Regions from separate parts of the Homo sapiens genome. Here all the other regions are reported to be linked to region 5. The links are microRNA targets in miRTarBase. Many come from high-throughput screens and were not tested one by one. Region 5 holds a microRNA gene; each other region holds the end of a gene's coding sequence. Distances are from middle to middle.
The links. The annotated mature microRNA hsa-miR-3162-3p reads UCCCUACCCCUCCACUCCCCA and lies in region 5 at 1,464-1,484, opposite strand. An mRNA with a match to its seed (bases 2 to 7 or 8) in the 3' UTR can be bound and repressed. Matches are read on the target gene's strand: a 7mer-m8 pairs with bases 2 to 8, a 7mer-A1 pairs with bases 2 to 7 and ends in A, and an 8mer does both.

Region 1 (4,149 bases), not on the chromosome of region 5:
TATGTGTAAAAGCCACATAGATGTTTTGATTTTTGATGAAATCAATCAAAGACAAAAACCATGCGTTACCCAATGTAGGATTAAGCTTTTAGAAGGAAGCTATGGGTGTTTGATCTAATGGTGATTTCTTAAAAGTGTTTATCATTCTATCTAAAAGAAAAGATGAATTCATTTGCTTTAGTGATAAAAGACTATTCAGTGGTTTTTGTAAAGGCAGATCCTCAACTAGGAATTAAGCACACAGATGTATTCAACTCTTGACGTCTGTTCTTTCTCCCATTAACTTTAATGGAGCTAGTAATCTCTACAGAATAAGTATGACCCTATTATCAGCTACTTGCACAATTCTGTTTCTAATGATCTAATTAAAAATGATGCTTCATGTCCAAAGCCACTTTTAAAAAATTTAGAACCCTAATGACTTTATCCTTTTCTCCAGCATGCACCAGGACAACCACGGCTACATCTGCCTGCTCATTCAGGGAGCCACAAAAGAAGATGCTGGGTGGTATACTGTGTCAGCCAAGAATGAAGCAGGGATTGTGTCCTGTACTGCCAGGCTGGACGTTTACAGTGAGTGCCACTTCATCTCATTTCATTGCGTTTACTCATTAAATTATGAAAAATTAGACATCTGGACAGCAAATCACATTACTCTTTATAAACAACTATTGTGTTTTATTTGTCAAAAAAATTCATATTGCTCTCTCTCTCTTTCTATTTGTAGTTTCTCGACATTAATAGTGAACCACACCAGGAGAACAAATACCCAAGTATCATTCAGGAACTTTGAATTATTAGCAAAATATGCATGTTGATTTCTCTTACATTGGCTAGTTAGTTGTGGCTTCCTTACTCAAGCATCCTTAGGAGTTAACAGTAGGCAAAGGCATAACCATGTTTTTCACATGTTCTTGTTACTGTGTTCTGCAAATGACTGCCTTTTAACATTTCTTCCTATATTCTATCGCAGTGTCCTAATGCACTCTAAACGTGTGTTCCATTGATCCTGGAATGCGTACTTTTGTGGCTTAGTGCTTTTCTCATTAATATATCTTAAGCAGCCAGCAGTAGACTTGTGTTTGTATATTTGTGTACATGCATCCCAAATTTAAAGAAAATTATTCCTATTGAATTTACAGTCTAGTACAATCAGCATTATGTTATCCATTGACATAAAAAAAACACTAGAAAAAAATTAAGAATTTATTTAAGAATTTATTTCAGATTTTGCCTCTTCTTGAAATAACTATGTGAGGGTCATCAAGAAATGTGTGGCCTCAACCTTCCCTACTGTACGATTCCTTTCAGTTGATTAGTGTTAAAGCATCCACATCCAGCAGAATTCCTAAGTGCTATAATTATTTTAGAGAAAATATTTTTTAAAAGGAGAGGGGGGATGAGAATTAGGAAGCTTATCAGCTATTCCAAAGGATTCCCTGTGCTGCAGTGTTTACTTAAAAAAAAAAAAGATAAACTACACTTGACCTTTGTAATCTAGCTGCTTTATTCCCACTATCCTGTATAGACAGTAAATCTGCAACATGTGAGTAAAATGCAAAAGTGTTCCTAAATTTTCCATGTTTCTACCATGGATGTGTTCAGGTGCCTTGCATCTATCTAGACATTCTGTATTTATTTGAAATATCTAAAGGCTTTCCAAGTATATCTTGATTAAAAATCTTAATTTACTCTTTTTCTTTGTAGCCCAGTGGCATCAGCAGTCACAGAGCACCAAGCCAAAAAAAGTACGGCCCTCAGCCAGTCGCTATGCAGCACTTTCGGACCAGGGACTAGACATCAAAGCAGCGTTCCAACCTGAGGCCAACCCATCTCACCTGACACTGAATACTGCCTTGGTAGAAAGTGAGGACCTGTAATCCAGCATTCTTGTTAAAGCTGAAACACTGAAACAGCCATTGCCTTGACCAACATATTCCTTTGTCACATTATGTAAAAGGCAGAAACATACCTTTGACTATAAGAAATTAAAAAAAAAACACCAAAATAATATTTTTCTTACTTGATATACCAAACTTAGTTTAAGTAGATAATGCTAATACAAATATACACATTGCACAGAAAATACACATTTACTGTCCAATTTAAAACTTTGGAATTGCTGTGATTAAAGTGATCAAAATGCCAAAATACTAAAGGAAATCAATTGTTCACAGGTAACTACAATTTGTATTATCTACAAGTGCCTTTAAACACAAGATATAGGTGCTGTGTAGCCTGATAGTGTGAAATGTTTAATGAGGGAGTTGTACCACAAACAGTACTACAATGATTCTGAAGCACAGTGTATTCAGACAGATACAGTGAACCAAGTGCAATATGTAAGGATGAAAGAAGAAGAGATGACAAAGAAATCCAAGTAAATGCCTTGTCTTTGCAAATGTTTTTATATTAAATCATAAGGAAGGAACTACTTGCCTTAAATGTTAATATCAAAAGAGTTTTCTAACAAGGTTAATACCTTAGTTCTTAACATTTTTTTTCTTTATGTGTAGTGTTTTCATGCTACCTTGGTAGGAAACTTATTTACAAACCATATTAAAAGGCTAATTTAAATATAAATAATATAAAGTGCTCTGAATAAAGCAGAAATATATTACAGTTCATTCCACAGAAAGCATCCAAACCACCCAAATGACCAAGGCATATATAGTATTTGGAGGAATCAGGGGTTTGGAAGGAGTAGGGAGGAGAATGAAGGAAAATGCAACCAGCATGATTATAGTGTGTTCATTTAGATAAAAGTAGAAGGCACAGGAGAGGTAGCAAAGGCCAGGCTTTTCTTTGGTTTTCTTCAAACATAGGTGAAAAAAACACTGCCATTCACAAGTCAAGGAACCCAGGGCCAGCTGGAAGTGTGGAGCACACATGCTGTGGAGCACACATGCTGTGGAGATTGCAGTGTGTCTGAGGTTTGTGTAGTAGTGGAAGATTTTAGGTATGTAGAGCAAGTTGAAAATGGATTGAGACTGCATGGTGGCATAAATGAGAAATTGCCTGTAGCATCTAGTCTACTTGAAGGAAGTGGAGACATAAGGAGAGACAAAAACAGGTTTGTGCCATAAAGTATTTTTTCAAAGACACCAAGATGTGGTAAATGAAAATTATTAGTTCACTTCCCTGCTGCCATGAAACTTTGCCTTAAGAAGGTGCTGGATTCCAAGGTTTGTAAAGGCATCTCGGTAAAGACTGCTTTTTGAATGCATATGATTTTGCATCAGCTAGACTGAGTTGATTCTGACCAGACTTGATGGTTTTAAGTCGGAACCGATAAATTTTAAAAAGGAGAAAAAATAATTTGACCTAGTAGTATAAAACATGAGGCTTTAATGGTACTTTGCTATGAAAAGAAAACACTGTATTCCTTATGCAAAACACATGTATCTTTCATTATTTATAAGTGGCCTCTCTTAGCTCAGTTACTCAATTCATACGTAGTATTTTTTAAAATAATTTTATATCTGTGTACCACCCCATATATTTCATATTACTGTTTCACATGTACAGCTTTCTACTTCTTTGTAAGAACACCAACCAACCAAGGTTTAAGTGATTAATAGGCTTGAGCACCGGGTGGCAGATGTTCTATGCAGTGTGGTTCAAGTTTCTTTGACCGCACTTATATGCATTGCTAATATGGAATTTAAGATACCATACACAGTCTCTCATGGACCTATCTCTATTGTAGAATTATGACTTATGTCTTACTTGCCAAATTTTTCTGAATGTGACCTTTTTTTGCTGATTTGCTGGGTTTGGGATTAACTAGCATTATTTTGCCACCTTTATATTGTATTTATAAAAAAAAAAGTACTATCAATCAATCATACTACTTTGGATTGTTGTGCTGGTGTAATGTGGATTTAACATCAATAAATATTTGACAAATAATAGTTGCAGTTTTGTGAAGCAAAATAAATATTCAGTTTTAGTTTTCTGTTGCTGCCATAACAATTAGCATAAACTTTGAGTGATGTTTGAGGCTTCAGCATCACTCATTTATTACTCACAGTTCTGTAAATCAAGTTCGGGCAGGATGTAGCTGGGTTCTCTGTTCAGGATCTTATAAAGCTAAAATCATTGTATCAGCTGGACTGTATTCTCATCTGGAGCTCAAGATCCTCTTCA
Region 2 (4,132 bases), not on the chromosome of region 5:
GGCCATCCTCATCGGCGACAAATCAGAGAATGTGCAGGACCTGCTGCTACTCGACGTGACCCCGTTGTCGCTGGGCATCGAGACAGCTGGCGGTGTCATGACCCCACTCATCAAGAGGAACACCACGATCCCCACCAAGCAGACGCAGACCTTCACCACCTACTCGGACAACCAGAGCAGCGTACTGGTGCAGGTATACGAGGGCGAACGGGCCATGACCAAGGACAATAACCTGCTGGGCAAGTTCGACCTGACCGGGATTCCCCCTGCGCCTCGCGGGGTCCCCCAAATCGAGGTTACCTTCGACATTGACGCCAATGGCATCCTTAACGTTACCGCCGCCGACAAGAGCACCGGTAAGGAAAACAAAATCACCATCACCAATGACAAAGGTCGTCTGAGCAAGGACGACATTGACCGGATGGTGCAGGAGGCGGAGCGGTACAAATCGGAAGATGAGGCGAATCGCGACCGAGTCGCGGCCAAAAACGCCCTGGAGTCCTATACCTACAACATCAAGCAGACGGTGGAAGACGAGAAACTGAGGGGCAAGATTAGCGAGCAGGACAAAAACAAGATCCTCGACAAGTGTCAGGAGGTGATCAACTGGCTCGACCGAAACCAGATGGCAGAGAAAGATGAGTATGAACACAAGCAGAAAGAGCTCGAAAGAGTTTGCAACCCCATCATCAGCAAACTTTACCAAGGTGGTCCTGGCGGCGGCAGCGGCGGCGGCGGTTCAGGAGCCTCCGGGGGACCCACCATCGAAGAAGTGGACTAAGCTTGCACTCAAGTCAGCGTAAACCTCTTTGCCTTTCTCTCTCTCTCTTTTTTTTTGTTTGTTTCTTTGAAATGTCCTTGTGCCAAGTACGAGATCTATTGTTGGAAGTCTTTGGTATATGCAAATGAAAGGAGAGGTGCAACAACTTAGTTTAATTATAAAAGTTCCAAAGTTTGTTTTTTAAAAACATTATTCGAGGTTTCTCTTTAATGCATTTTGCGTGTTTGCTGACTTGAGCATTTTTGATTAGTTCGTGCATGGAGATTTGTTTGAGATGAGAAACCTTAAGTTTGCACACCTGTTCTGTAGAAGCTTGGAAACAGTAAAATATATAGGAGCTTAAATTGTTTATTTTTATGTACTACTTTAAAACTAAACTGAACATTGCAGTAATGTTAAGGACAGGTATACTTTTTGCAAACAAATGCATAAATGCAAATGTAAAGTAAAGCTGAAATTGATCTCAAAGTTACTGTCTTGGAGTTTTCAATTTTCCTTCCTTTATATTTTACCCATATTCGTCTTTTAAGATGTTAGTATGATGTGAAATTTATCTAACCAATCTTGTTTAATTCCCAGATGAGGGTGCTGCCTTGAATTCCAACAACTTAAGGGGAGAAGAATCTGGGTAAACTTCACCCACCCTTAAATACAGAAACCTGACTTGGGGTCTTCCTAGTGTACTCACACTCCTACAACTTAAGTGTCCAAATGAAAATTCACCTGAATATTCCAGGAAAATATGAGCTATATTCTGGGGTTAAATGTAAAATGAGCCTTTAACAAAAGCTGGGCAGAAGTTGTCTTATAATTGCCAAAGGAAATATGGAAACAAATTAATTTTGTGACATACAGGAGCCTGAAACAAGAGACAGCAGGCAAGCTTTCAAGTGACTTAATAGTGAGTATAAATTTAGTCAAACTTGTTTAATTTTCTAGTAAAACAGCTCAACTTCTGAGCTTATGGCAAATTCTAATAACATGTTTCCCGCAGTTAGAATTACTTGGGTAGGGAAACATAATTATTATTATTTTTTTCTGGTTTGGGGATCATAACGTTTTTGCAATACTTGCCTTAAATCACTACGATAGATTTCTTTTTTAAAAGGCAAACTGTACTAGATAGTCTTGTATTTTGTTAATATACAACTTGTCCATTTTCCTCCATATCCAATTTGAGATTGTTATAGATAAGAATATTGCAACCCTTTGGTGATCCACTATCCTGGACTTAATCTTTAAAATTCACATCCTTCAGAGAAAGGAATTCATTTTTATTTTTTAGTGAAATGACATGACTACTCTTTTCTTACTCTCTTTAAGGAGAACTTGAGAGAAATTCAGTAAAACCAATAGGAAAATGCATAGTTAACCTAATGTTTTTACTGCACATAGACGTTTTGATATCTTTCCACATGATGCAGGTTTGCTTCATGCTGCTCATAAGACAATAGTTATGAAAGCTTTATCTTCAATTTAGTAGTGGACCCATCTGTGTCATTCAGAGAGATTAATTTTATGAATAATGGAATGAGTAATAATTTTAAAACTAGCTAAGAAGTTAGCCTAAGAATACTGGCCTTTGGTAATGACCCTTTCATACAAGAGTTGACTCTTAAGTACACATAAGGTGTTTTTTTTTTTTTCCTTTTTAGCAAGCCTCATTTGGGTAGGGGGGAGGAAGATAAATAGCCAACAGTGAAATTGCTTCAACATAAAAACCTTTTTTTTTTTTTAAAGGAAACTGCTTTTTATACTCTGAAAAGCTAAAGATAACTCCAATTTATCAGTGCTGGTGTCACATTGGTGGAAATTTTTCAGCAATGAGCATTTAAGGGTGTTTCATGGACTACAGGCATAAATATGTGACAAACTACTATGGTACTACAAAATCAGGTTAATTGTAGCTTTAGAGTGACGTTTACTGTGAGTTTTACCAAGATAATACCCATTCTGTTACCCTTTTATTAGTCCTTTATTTGTTGAAAGTGTTCATTCCTTGCTCTAACTTCAAAATATAATGGAGTCCTTCTGTAAATGCAGTTTGGTATGACTCATTTTAGACCTCACTTAAGAGATTAGTTTCTAAAGTATCAGAAAATGACCATTGGTAGTTTTTGATCCTACGGCCTGACCTCCGGTAGCTTGCTATAATACTAACATCAATCTGGGCAGATACTTCATTTTCTATTTTGAAAAGTAATTTGTAAAACTCAAATTCTTGAGTTTTACATTCTTGAGCATTCTTGAGAGTGTTTCTTATTTAATTCTCTCTTTTCAAATTTACCAAGATTTGCATATTACCAAGATAAAGCCACCAAAGTAGCCATTCACTTTCCAGGGGTCAGTTGAAACTTGTAACCTGATAACTCCTGGGAACTCCTTAGCAGATGTTAGATCAGCCATAGTCAAATAACAGTGGAAAAAGTACTTGATGTTAGGATGGGGCTAAATTACAGTTTAAGGATTCTCCGACAGGCACTTATCTGAAATTCTTTTTTTTTTTTTTTTTTTGAGACGGAATTTCACTCTTGTTGCCCAGGCTGGAGTGCAATGGCTTGATCTCGGCTCACTTCAACCTCCGCCTCCTGGGTTCAAGCGATTCTCCTGCCTCAGCCTACCGAGTAGCTGGGATTACAGGCATGCACCACCACACCTGGCTAATTTTGTATTTTTAGTAGAGATGGGGTTTCTCCATGTTTGTCAGGCTGGTCTGGAACTCCCGACCTCAGGTGATCCGCCCGCCTTGGCCTCCCCAAGTGCTGGGATTACAGGCGTGAGCCACGCGCCAGCCCACTTACCTGAAATTCTTATCTGAATGTTTGATTAACATAGTTGTCCCTGTTTTGAGGGAACAAATATAGACACCTGTCAAACGAAGACATAACTAGTTGTTTACAGTATTTGAGATGTGTGAAATTTCAAAACAAACTCACTTTAAATTTTTTATAGTATTGATTTGATATGTATAATGAAAATGCATTAAAACTTGTACATTAGGAGATCTTAGTACAATTTACAACTGTTAATTTAACATGTATGTGTAATATTATGTTACCCATTCAATATGTAATGGAGACTTAATGAGTATTTCTTTTTTATGTATAATCTTAAACAGTAATACAACCTGGCTATCTAGATGAAATCAGAAAATCTATTTTTATGATTTTCCAATAGTGGACCTATAACATATTCTTACTTTTAACTGAATGTAGTTTATAAAGGTTGTGTTGTGAGGCATGCTCCTCTTGCTTTTGAACACGATTTAAATTGAAGTTTAAAAATATCTCACATCCGTATGTCTCAACTGTTAAGGGAATATATATGTTTGGATTCAGAAGCAGGAATATT
Region 3 (4,149 bases), 55 Mb from region 5:
GGCCTTTCTCTTTCTAGACACCCATTTTCTTAATTAGAAAGGGAAAAGACTGTGGCCTTGGGAGAGTTAAGAATAGTAAGACAAGGAGCTGGGCAATCCAGTAGTCAACTAGCTACATGTAGCTATTTAAATTAGTTACAATGAAATAAAATTAGAAAACTGTAGAGCTGCAGTCGCACCAGCCTCATTCATAGCCATGTGTGACTGGTGGCTGCCGTCTTGGGTGGTGCCTTCATTGTCCCAGAAAGTTCTGTTGGAGCAAGCCCAGCTGGAGGAACCCAGCTTCCCTGGCACGCCTGAGGGTGACATGGTGCCCTCACCGCCTTCTGTCTGTCCTCACTTTCTCCTGCCCTGTCCCTCCGCCCTCAGGTGAGAAGCCCTTTGAGTGTAAGCTCTGCCACCAGCGCTCCCGGGACTACTCGGCCATGATCAAGCACCTGAGAACGCACAACGGCGCCTCGCCCTACCAGTGCACCATCTGCACAGAGTACTGCCCCAGCCTCTCCTCCATGCAGAAGCACATGAAGGGCCACAAGCCCGAGGAGATCCCGCCCGACTGGAGGATAGAGAAGACGTACCTCTACCTGTGCTATGTGTGAAGGGAGGCCCGCGGCGGTGGAGCCGAGCGGGGAGCCAGGAAAGAAGAGTTGGAGTGAGATGAAGGAAGGACTATGACAAATAAAAAAGGAAAAGAAAAAAAAAAACAGAAGGAAAAGGAAACCTGGTAGCTTTTTGGCCTTGGATTCTCTCTGGGCTCCAGATGACCTGGATGCCAAGCCACTGCCCCTCCTCTGGGGGCCTCCACCCTCCTCTCCCGGCTGGAGGTTTGCCTGATTTTCTGGGATGGGGTTGGGTATTTTGTTCACTCAAATGGTGGCACATTTTTCTCCTTCCTTCACCCAGACCTTCTTTTATGTGTCCAGAAATGGAGGCTAGAAAGCAGGTGAGAGGTCCTCTGGTCAGAGCCACACGGTCTGTGCCGGCCTTCCTCCACCAAGACCCCCAGGAGATGAAGGGAGGGAGGAGGTGAGCCAGAAGGGCGCTCCCCTGCTGATGGGTCTGGGCTGGGTCACTAGCTGCTCAAAATGGCAGCTCTAGTTTGCTGGCGGCTGACTGGGGAGGAGAAGGGCTCTGTTTCTCTTCCCACCACTCAGCCCACCTGCTGCTTTCCTCTGCTTTGCCACATCTGGGTGTCCCCCGGTGGTCTCTGAGAGCCTCAGGACCCCTGCCCCTCCTCCAGCTCTTTGTTCCCAGCCTCCCCTTGACTCCTGTCCTCCAAGTCCCAGGGGAGTCCCAGCCCCTCAGGGACCTGGCGGTGTCTCCATCCTTCTCCGGTTCCCTAGTGGGATAGCTGCCTCTGACTTCAGGGTCCCTCCTACCCTCAGCCTTCTGAGAACACAAAACAAATCCAATACCCCACCCTAGTCCAGCACCATCGTGAGCAAGATTCCTGCTGCGCTGCTTCCAAAATGGAAAAGCATCACAACTAAATACCTAATATCCTACCAAACAAACCACAGTCCCTACGTAGCCCTACTTCAGTCCCAGGAGAAGGAATCCATGAATGGGCTGAGGTTCCGAGGGTAGGTTGTGGATGTCTTTCTCTAGAGGGGTCCCACACCTGGAAAAGAGGACACCCAGCCCGTGGGATGAGGGAAGCTGGGCAAGGGAGAAAGTTGTTGAGTCACACTGGGGACCCCAGATGTAGTGAGCTCAGCAAGAAAAGCCAGGTCCAGAGAGAGTCGCACAGAATTCCTGACTCACAGCGCCCCTCGGTCCACAGTGGAGAGGAGGAGGAGGAGGAGCAGAAGGAGGGGGAGGAGCTGCAGGAGGAGGAGGATTTGAAAGCGCTTTGGCCTTGTGTTATGTTTTGCTTCTTTTCTGTGTCCCCTGTTAGCACATTGTACTTGAATTACCTCAGTTTTTTGTGACCTCATGAGCTTTCTTAACCTCTGTATCTCTTTTTCGGTTGGGGCTTGGAGGAATGGGGAGGGTGTTCTTTTCTGTTTCTTGTGTAAATTAATAGTTGTTTTTATAGACTTCAGCTGGTCAAGACCCTCCCCGTGCCCCTGGAGACCAGCCTCCCAGCTGGCAGGAACTGTGCAGGAGGAGTTGATACTCAGGATCTGAATGTGAGGGCCGAGGAGGGCGAAGAGCGTGGGTGGGGAGGGGATGTTGCTTTGGGGTCTCATGGTCCCCAGAGGGCACTAGGGAGTCACTTTTGGCTCCGCTGGTGCATGAAGTCACCTGTGGCCACCATCCGTTCCGCCTAAAACACTCTGGAGAGAATCCCACCTTTCTTACAATTTGCTGGGCCATTGAGGTTTGAGGGCCTGTGTTTGGATCCTTGCAACTGTGTGGTCTCACCTCTGTGCGTGCATTCTCATTGCCAGAATTGGTCTATTTTCACGGCTGGTCTTTGGGGAGGGGGGCGGGATCCAGCCTTTGTTTTGTTGTGTTGGGGTGGGGGTGTTGTTTTTCTAAAAGCTACCTCTTATGTTTGTCCAGTTGTTCTTTTGTTCCTTTCCCGCCTCCCATTCTGCTGCTCTTCCTCCCTCTTTTCCCCAACCTCCCCCGACCCTCCTGAATTTTGGAAAGCACATTTGCAATATTCGTGTTTGCTTTGGGACGGACCCTCCGTTTCATCTCATGCTTTATGTGTAAGAGTTTTTTATTATTATTTTTTCTTTCCTTTCTCTCTCTGAGAAAGTTGTGGCTGCGTTTTGATCTTAGGTTTTACAAAGTGGTTTAGGGAAGCGGTTTTGGGGAGAAGGATCACGAGGAATGTAGGGAAGCCGGAGGGATGGGTGCTGCTGCGACGACCCCCCCGTCCCTCGGCCCCAGCCCTCCTGCCCTCCCCTTCAATCTCATCCACCAAATCTGAAGGCCTTAAAATTGTGTGTTGGGAGGATGTGAATTGGGAGGACGGTGTCACTAGACTGTGGATTAGGGATGGTAAAGTAGGGAGGATGCTATTTTGCAACTATAGTAACGACTTAGTGTTTTGGAAAGGAAAAGAAGTTAAACTTGAAATACGTGACTAGAACAGTTGTCATGTTTATAATGTGAAAAGGGTGAAATCATTTGGGGGAGGGGCCGTCTGTAAGAAATCATTATGCACTATGGCTTCCTCCTCTGGTCTGGGAAGAAGCGGGGACTGGCTGGCCCTCAGGGGATCTGTAAATCCCAGAAAACAGTATTTTTAACAGCAAGATGTCATTCAACATTGGTGGGGAAGGAAGAGAAAAAAATCAAACTATTCCATAGAACTAGCTGGCCCCCTCACTCCCATGCCCTTCCCACTCAGCCTGGGCCCCTCCCCGCTCCATTCATAAAAGCTGAGAGGGTTGAGCTAATCTTCACAAATTGTAATATTTTTGTAGTATCTGTTAGTTCCTTCGTCAGTTCTGCAGAACCTTGCCCTTTCCTTTTGTAATGTGAATAGGAAGACAAAAGACAAAAAAAAATCCACCACCACCAAAATATCCCTTTGTACATGTATGTGCGTGTGCGCGTGTGCTTTGTGTGTGTGGTTGTGTGTTAAATCATGCAGTATTGTCGTAATCTGGTGTTGCAGCAATGGATGGTACTAAATCAGCACCTGGATGCCCCACCCAACCCCGTGGGCCCTGCAGACCCCAGTAGGGAGGTATGGGGAGAGCTCAGGGGAGTGTGGTTTCTGAGGGCTACTGTCTGGGGACACCTCTGAACTTACTGTACCTTCCTCTCCCCATGAAGACACCTGAATAGAGTCTAACATGCCTCTTCTCCAACTTCCTACCTACAACAACAGAACAGTTCTAATGTTGCACGGCCTAGTGGCCAGGGGGCAAGCTAAGAGGCTGTCTGGAGGCTTTATATGTGTCTGGAGTTAAGGGGAGAGGAGGAGGGTAGACAGGGGTCTCTCCCCAGGTGGGATCTGAATATCTGTCCTCCCCTCTTCTTCATGCCACCTGACTCCTTCGGCCCCCTGGCTGCCTTTAGCTGTGGTACTGCTGACAACCCTGCTTGCTACTGCCTTATCCAGCACAGTGAAAAACTTCTCCAGCCTGGCAAGGCCACGTTGGTTAATAGTCCCTTTCCCATGTCCAGCTCCTACAAATATGTCCCTTAATGCATTTGGTGACATTTACACCTCATGTGCTCTTT
Region 4 (4,149 bases), not on the chromosome of region 5:
CTGGGGTGCAATGGTGCAATCTCAGCTCACTGCAACCTCCGCCTCCTGGGTTCAAGTGATTCTCTTACCTCACCTTCCTGAGTAGCTGTGATTACAGGTGCGAACCACCATGCCCAGCTAATTTTTCATATCTTTAGTAGAGACAGGGTTTCTCCATGTTGGTCAGGCTGGTCTTGAACTCCCGACCACAGGTGATCCACCTGCCTCGGCCTCCCAAAGTGCTGGGATTATAGGCGTGAGCCACCGCCCCCTGCTTTAAACATTTTACATAACAAATTTTTCAGTGTTTATTTCTAAAAAGTGATGTTAAAGCCAGGTGTGGTGGTTCATTCCTGTAATCCCAGCACTTTGGGAAGCTGAGGCAGGGTGGGTCGCTTGAGCCCAGGAGTTCATGACCAGCCTGGGCAACATAGCAAGACTCCATCTCTATTAAAAAATACAAGAAAACTAGTTTAAGTTTAGCATAGTGGTGTGTGCCCGTAGTCCCAGCTCTCTGGGAGGCTGAGGTGGGAGGATCACTTGAGCTGGGGAGGTTGAGGCTGTAGTGAGGGAGAAAGCGGGACTCTGTCTCAAACAAACAACCATAATGCAATAATACACAAACCAAATTTACTAAGTATCAAGGAATATCCAGTGTTGAGATTTCTGCTTGTCTGATTTAAAGTTGTGTGTTTTGTTCCGATTTGGTAATTCGGATCCAAAGTCCATACTATCCGATATGTCCTTTGAGCCTCTTAATCTAGAGCAGCGACCGGTTCTCAATGCTGAGCGGTTGGGGATCCCCTGGAAGCCCTGTGAAAGCGATGCTGGGCCCGCAAGCAGGCGGGGTGGGCCTGGAGCTAGGCGTTTCTCCCACATGCCCCGGGACGCTGCTTTGGAACTGTGCCGAGTCCCCTGCATGCCAGGCCTCTCGTTTCCTTGTGGTTTATCTGCTGAAGAGGGCAGGTTGTGAGTCCCACGGGTCTCTACAATGTCAACTTTGCTCATTGCAGCCCTCTGGGGGCTTTGAACTCATGCCTCTGTTGGGCGTCCATCAGCCCATCCGATGCAGGCAGAAGCCATCTGACTGTGCCACCTGGCTGCAGCCCACCATAGCTCCCAGCTGCTTGCTCCAGGCGCTTCTCCCTGATCTCAGCCACTCCAAGGGCACTCACAGGCACCCCTCCCTTTCTCTGTCAGGGCTCACCCCTCGCAGGGCTGACCCTCTACCCTGTGTTCCCACAGCCCCGTGCGCCAACCTGTCACACACATCCTGTGGTTTTACACTTCTGTCACTGACAGGAGCCTGCTGGGGACAGGTGCTGGCTCCACTCCCTCCTCCAGCACCCTGTCTCAGAGTGTACTGAGGTGACGATGGTGATGGCGTGGTCTGTTCTCTGCCTGACAGTACATTAGGTGCCACAGACCTGCCCCACTGACCATGGAGGATGCCCTGGAGGAGGTGAACAAGGAGCTGTGAGCGCCAGCAGGTGGAGCTTGACGTGACGTCTTAACAAAAGGTATCCCGTCCTGTGTACTCAGTGCACACACACGCACACAAACATAGAGCTCATCAGTGTCCAAGTGTGACGTTCCGTGGTGGGGGCAGGTGGTACTGGGGTGATGGACACACACACACACAGTCAGCATCCAGGTGTGACATTCCATGGTGGGGCAGGTGGTGCTGCGGTGAGGGCCCCAGACTCCTCTGAGCCAAATCCCAGCTCAGTGACAGCTCTCCCAGCAGCATGCCCAGCTCTATGACACCACAGGCCAGTGGAAATAGAATTTCAGTGGAGCTGTCCCCACTCACAGCAGGACAGGGGCCACCAGCCTCTGCAGAGCAGCTCCACCCAGGCAGGTCCTGGCATCCCAGTGAGCCAGAGGGAGACAGGGTGGATGGGAGAAGCCCTGCTCGAGGGTAAGGACATGGGACCAGGTCAGCACGCTGGGGACGCCATGTGAGCCCCTGGACACGGCCTCTGACCCCAGGCTGCACAGCTCAAACCAGGACATGTGTCTCCTCACTCAGCCCGTGCACACTTCTGACTTACACATGTGCGGGAGAAAGGTCTTTAAAAAAAGGCTTTATTTGAAGGCAAAACAATGAAATCCACAAGAAATTACTAACAGCACGTGTTTACGTTTTATCCTGAATCATACATTTTAACAATTCACAGCTACAGGAAATCTAGAACAAAATCAAATATTCATCACGTTGGGTTGAAAAGTTGGAAGATTTTGCATCTTATTGAAAAGAATTTTTCAAAAATGTTTCTGTACAAATGAATGGAATTGCACCAGGCTGCCCATGGACACCAGGTGTGGCCGATTCCCAACGGTCACCCACCAGCTTCTGGCAGGAGCAGCTCCCCTCCTGGCCTCCCCTCCCTTCGGGGGTGTGAAATGAAATGATGGAGTGGAAGGCGCTGGCTGGGGTCGGGCTCCATGCTCTGGATGGGACTGGGCCGTCGCACACGCCAGCCGGTGCAGGGTTCTTCCAAGTGCAAAACTCAAGCAGGGGACGCGACGGGCACAGACTCCGAGGCAGCGCTCAACCTGAAGTGTCTTAGGCTGGTTTCCTGTTAGAATCTTGTTTCCCAGATAACAGCAAATGGCTACATTCCAGAAAAAAAATATCAACTTATACAACTAAAATAACTGAACTAAGGGCCAGTACGCCTTCGAAGAATTAGGTTTCAGAATCTCACTGGGCCTCCTCTCAGGTCAGTATTCTTCTTTCTAGACCTAAACCAAGGAGAGTAAAAATGAAAACCCTGCTTCACTTCGCAAGTCAAGTCAAAGTTTTGTGTTTCTGTTTTTCAATCCGCGGGCAGTCATGGCACTGGGCTTCGGCTTTGTCCCTACACAGCCGAGGGGAAGCCAGGTCAGGGCCGGTGGGTGCGGGGAGCTGGAGGAAGGAGCTGGGGTGCCGGCTCTGGCTCAGGCCAACCCTTCCTGCACATGCTCCTCCTGGAGCCTAGGAGGAGGCTTCAATCTGACTTAGGGCAGATGCACATCCATCCCTTCGTGGCTGAAGAATTTACTCGGGCGGAGGGTCTTGTGTTTTTTGCTTCGCTATAAAGGAAAACGAGCCTGGGGCCCTGGTGGCTGCAGCGCCTCCTGGTGTGGTTTGTGGGTGGCACCCGTGCCCTCCACGCCATGGAGCACGGCGTTCCCACTGGGCATGCGCTGGTCTTCCTTCTCTTCCTGTGGCTCTCCACAAGTGGAGACGGTGTAAGAACTGAGCTGTCACTGCAATCTTCCTCTGCCAGTCAGCCAGGAAGGTCCCACAGCCGGCACCGCTGGCCACCGGCGCGGCTCCCGGCATGGGCGCCTACTTACACTCGTCCCTGGCCTTCATGCGGGCGATGAAGGAGTAGCTCTTGTTCCTGCGGTAGTTCTCATAGGGGTCATCCAGAGCCACGCCCACGCCTTTATACTGGTCCCACTTATCCCGGACGTCCCCGCCCTTGATGGGGTCCTGGATCCCTTGCTCCTTCGCACCGAGGCCGCCTGAGCCGCTCCAGCCTGGAAACAGAGACGCAGTCACAACCACAACAAGGCGGAGGCAGATGGGGGTGCACGTGGGGGGCTGAATGTCCAGACAGGCAGTGTAGACATGGGAAATGGGTAGAGAGAACCCGCAGGCCGGCCCTGTCTAGAGGGTCTGGGTGGAGTCAGAACCGGCCTGACTCCATCCATCCCCACATGCACTGAGGAAGAGAAAGCGCTGGTGACTCCCGGGCCCAGCACGCGTGAGGACCCATCCCGCGCCCTCCCCATTCCCTCGCCTTACCCATCTTCACCAGCATCTGATGGCCTTTGTTCTCTTCTCCGAGCCTTGAGTCAGGGATGGGAGGCGCCGAATTAGAACCCAGACCAGCAGAGGAACTAAAATCGAGACAGGTTATTCTTTTTAAGAAGTAACTGAGACATTTATTGGAATGACAGTGATGAGGACCTCACAGCCGCAGCTTGCGTGCATGCTCACTGTCACCAGGTGACACCGTATGCAGATTTTGCGTCTCTACCCGTTTATCCTGTCTCAGCTAGATAAGGGGGCTCCAGACGCTGGCCCCCACCCCACGCTCAGCATTGAGAGCAGGACACCTCCAACCCAGATGGTGGTTAGAAAGCAGACCCCAGTTACTGCCTCAGGCTTCGCCA
Region 5 (4,000 bases):
TATTTGCCTCGAAACTTGCTGGTGATTTTGATTTCCTGACGCAATGTCCAGCCATTTTTGGACTCAGCATGGTGCGCAGCAGCAGGGGGATGATGACTCACCTTGAAGAAATCAGGTTCAAATTAAGACGGCAGAAAGGAGAAGAAAAAGATACTGCCTATAAATTGGTGAGAAACACCAAAATTCACACTTGACGTTTTTACACCCACAACAGTAGGTGAATCCCAGAACCTCCAGGGTCTCCAACGCTGACGTTCTGAAGAAAAAGAATAAAAGCTGGGATGACAGGGACTAGAATTTCTGCAAACATAAGACCCAGGGGATTAACCAAAAAATCATCTCTTTCTTCAGAAAGGAAATGCGTTATGGTTCTGAGGTTCCTTTACCTGTTCACAGAGGGATCGGTACCCATTCTCCTCTAATCGGTCCAGCTCAAAGGTCTCCCCAAGCAGTGGGTTGAATGGCTTACTGGTGCGGAAGACAGTAGTGGAGTAGGAGGACACGGTGAAAGCTGCAACATAACAGAGCTGTTCTAGAGAATTCTCACATTTTGCAGCTCGGTCTAACAGCTCATGGTATTCCAGATCTTCAGTAAGGCGCTGAAGCATGGACAAGGGCTCATTAAAGTTTACCTGTAAGGAGAAGAACAGATATAAAAACTATGCTCACTCATCTATAAGAGACAGTTTAATTTTTTTTGCAGTTTAGGAAATAAATCACTGGGAAAAGAGGGCTTTGCTCAGTAGAGCGGCTCTAATATTTAACCCGCAAACAACCCATTCTCCTTGTCAACTGTTCATGTCTGTGAGTGGCAGAAATCACTGTTTTCATTTCACTAACTGTAAGCTCTTTGAGATGGGAACCATGCCTCTTCTGTTGAGTGCTACATACCCAAGATCCATCAGTGACTGGCCCACAGAAGACTATCATCAAATAGGTGTTGGATGAATAAGTTTTTTAAAAAAGAAATGCAATGTATTTTAGCACAAGTATACCCAGAGAGGAAATCAGGTATTTAAAATTCTTGGAGAATGAAAGAAACAGTAGTAAATTATAAGTACAGCTATATCCTGACTAGTTATAAAAGTTAGTTTCCACCCTGGACAAAACAATTGCTAAATCTCAGTTCAGTTCTGCATCAGGCCAGGATTCTGATTTCTCCTCTGAGGCTGGATAATTGTGTTTCTGGGAGTGAAGTGCTCATGATGGGGGTTGAGAGGGGGCTGTGCATGCTCTTACCTTTCTAATTCTGAAGCCAGCTTAAGGCGACCAAGTACTGGATAAAGCAAGCATGTGTGTGTTTATGTGTGTGTGCCAGGAATTGGGGGCTTCTGTTGGGGGAGATGTTCATTCATTCATTTATTCACTTACTCATTCCACAAATATTTATTGAGTACCCATGTGTGCCAGACCCTATGCTACCCACTGGATAGAGAGAAGTTAACAAGAGAAGCTGACTTTTTTGGGGAGTGGAGGGGTAGGGAGTGAGAAACATTGTTCATGCTCCCCACCCTTCTACTCCCTAAAAAAGTCAGCTTCAAAATTAACTTTGAAATTTTAAATGATTTTACTATGTAAAAATTCACTATAAAACAAGTCAGGTTCCCAAGTTAGTCCATAAAGCTTATTTAATTAACAATATAGATGAACAAGTCTAAATATTATTAGCCTGAGTTCTAAGTCCAGAGAACAAAAGAAGAAAGAAAAAATTCCCTTTTAGTGAATGGTTCTGGCCTTAAGCAACGCTTTACTTAAACAAACAAAAAAAACACAACACTTTTCTTTCTGATGTTCCATCTCTTTTGGCATTTTTGTTCACCCTTCTACCCACCAATCTCTGAGCTACATATTACCCTAATATTTGCTATCCCCCCACCGCCCGCTCAATCATGAAATTAATATCGTATAATTTTTAACTGTAAAAAACTTTGAAAACAAAGTATCAAGGAAAAAATTTTCTTGAAATGAGATCACCACTATTAACATTTTCAGTTTGTTTCTATACATTCATACATTTTTAAAAGTAATAAACTTGGCCACGTGTGGTGGCTCATGCTTACAATCCTAGCACTTTGAGAGGCTGAGGCAAGCGGATTGCTTGTGCTCAGCAGTTTGAGACCAGCCTGGGAAACATGGCAAAACACCATCTCTATAAAAAAAAAACACAAAAATTAGCACGGTGTGGTGGCGTGCACCTGTAGTCTCAGTTACTTGGGAGGCTGAGGTGGGATGATGGCTTGAGCCCAGGAAGCAGAAGTTGCAGTGAGCCAAGATCATGCCACTGCACTCCAGCCTGGGCAACAGAGCGAGACTCTGTCTAAAAATAAATAAATAAATAAATAAATAAATAAATAAATAAATAAATAAATAAATAAAATTCATAAACTAGAGCCTGCTTTTTCTCTGAGAAATATCCCAAATGTTTCTCTGTGAACATTTTCCAGTGAACACAGAGCCACAGAGCCAACAACACTCATCCTTTGAGAAATAGGACCCACCAAAACAGTGTGCCATACCCCAGAGCCCTCTTCCCTACACTGAAAGACAAGCAGTATGATGACACAAATGCACACTGAGGGGTGGCGCGCTGCAAAAGCCATAATCCTCGATTCTTTTTAAAGAGGGCACTTATTAACTACACCCAATAAAATCTGTCCGTGGCAGAATTTAGACAATACGAAGTAACATTTCCATACATTTTGAGGAAAACTGGGGACAGGCAGTGTACTCCACTGGTGGTACTAGACATACCAGCAGTGCATGGGACTAGAATCAGCACATTGCTATCACTGCTTTTCACACACACACAGCCTTGCCCATCAACAACCAGTTTCTCCAAAAGTGCCAAGCTTCTTATAATGGTCATTTTATTACTCAAAAGCCAAACAGGGAAAGAAATGAGTCTGAGTATTTAAAGTAGAAGGAAGCAGGGAGCTATACAGCTGATGAAAAATTAGGCACCCAAAAAAAAAAAAGACAACCCAGAGATTAGCAGCAACAGGAAGCCATAACCATTGGTAGGGTGGAGAGATGGGGAGAAGCAGCAGTATTACTACAGCCTAGAGGTGGGGGTCCAAGAGAGGAGGATCAGGAGAATGTAAAACATCAAGGCAGGGGAGGCCTCTCCAGTGAAAACTAGAGCCACGTAGGTGCGCCAGAGCACCACTCAAGAGGGCATAGAGGGAGAGACTTCCCACGGCTATAACCTCCTACTGGTATCTTGCATTAGTGAAGCCCAGCCAGACTCCAGTAGCCACGGAAGCCTGAAAAAACACTTCCTAGAGGGATTAGTTTTCCTGTGTTACAGCCTAGAGTAGGGGAAGGGTGAGGACTTGATCTGCGGGCAAACAGGTACAGGACTGTACATTCTTAAAGGCAAGATCAATAAGGAACTAATGGTAAAGGAGGACAGAGAAGTCACCTAGACCCAGAAGCTATTTCTTTCTTTTTTTTGAGATGGAGTCTCACTCTGTTGCCCAGGCTGGAGTGCAGTGGCACAATCTTGGCTCACTGCAATCTCCGCCTCCCAGATTCAAGCAATTCTCCTGCCTCAGCCTCCCAAGCAGCTAGGATTACAGACGCGCGCCAACATGCCCGGCTAATTTTTATATTTTTAGAGAGATGTTGGCCAGGCTGGTCTCGAACTCCTGACCTCAAGTGATCCGCCTGCCTCAGCCTCCCAAAGTGCTGGGATTTTTTTACAGGTGTGGGCCACCGCGCATGGCACCAGAAGCTGTTTCTAAGCAGGAACTACATTCCTGAGACTGCAATGACATGCCTTTCCAGTCCACTTTCCCACTACTCCCTTCAAGGCACCTAATACTCCAGACAAGTGGGGTTTCTTTTCAAGCCCCCAATAAACTAATTATTATTTTAGGTTTATCCTAAGGCTACTCATGGCCTTTTCTTATCTGAAGGTCAACCTTTTTTTCTTTTGAGACAGGGTCTTGCTCTCACCCAGGCTGGAGTGCAGTGGTGAGATCATGGCTCACTGCAGCCT

Region 1: the mRNA of PALLD is a reported target of hsa-miR-3162-3p. Seed matches in the 3' UTR shown: 7mer-A1 at 2,704-2,710.
Region 2: miRTarBase lists HSPA2 as a target of hsa-miR-3162-3p. The part of its 3' UTR that is shown has no 7-base or 8-base seed match.
Region 3: miRTarBase lists ZBTB16 as a target of hsa-miR-3162-3p. Seed matches in the 3' UTR shown: 7mer-A1 at 2,787-2,793, 7mer-A1 at 2,961-2,967 and 7mer-A1 at 3,642-3,648.
Region 4: miRTarBase lists CHERP as a target of hsa-miR-3162-3p. Seed matches in the 3' UTR shown: 7mer-A1 at 2,841-2,847.

Annotation. Positions count from the first base shown.
Region 1 is chr4:168,924,506-168,928,654 of GRCh38, forward strand. It overlaps PALLD (palladin, cytoskeletal associated protein), which reads left to right. Exons shown (of 22, transcript NM_001166108.2): 20 at 440-573; 21 at 728-773; 22 at 1,708-3,936. The coding sequence ends at 741. It also overlaps a transcript of CBR4 not described here. Among named protein-coding and RNA genes, the nearest start is that of CBR4, 84 kb to the right of the region's middle.
Region 2 is chr14:64,541,989-64,546,120 of GRCh38, forward strand. It overlaps HSPA2 (heat shock protein family A (Hsp70) member 2), which reads left to right. Exons shown (of 1, transcript NM_021979.4): 1 at 1-1,249. The coding sequence ends at 781. Among named protein-coding and RNA genes, the nearest start is that of HSPA2, 3.3 kb to the left of the region's middle.
Region 3 is chr11:114,249,957-114,254,105 of GRCh38, forward strand. ZBTB16 (zinc finger and BTB domain containing 16) reads left to right here. Exons shown (of 7, transcript NM_006006.6): 7 at 370-4,149. The coding sequence ends at 599. Among named protein-coding and RNA genes, the nearest start is that of NNMT, 44 kb to the right of the region's middle.
Region 4 is chr19:16,515,843-16,519,991 of GRCh38, forward strand. CHERP (calcium homeostasis endoplasmic reticulum protein) reads right to left here. Exons shown (of 17, transcript NM_006387.6): 16 at 3,779-3,873; 17 at 2,052-3,510. The coding sequence ends at 3,317. C19orf44 (chromosome 19 open reading frame 44) reads left to right here. Exons shown (of 9, transcript NM_032207.4): 8 at 1,388-1,499. The coding sequence ends at 1,459. Among named protein-coding and RNA genes, the nearest start is that of C19orf44, 22 kb to the left of the region's middle.
Region 5 is chr11:59,593,624-59,597,623 of GRCh38, forward strand. MIR3162 (microRNA 3162) reads right to left here and starts at 1,535; the gene lies at 1,454-1,535. OSBP (oxysterol binding protein) reads right to left here. Exons shown (of 14, transcript NM_002556.3): 8 at 387-632; 9 at 1-101.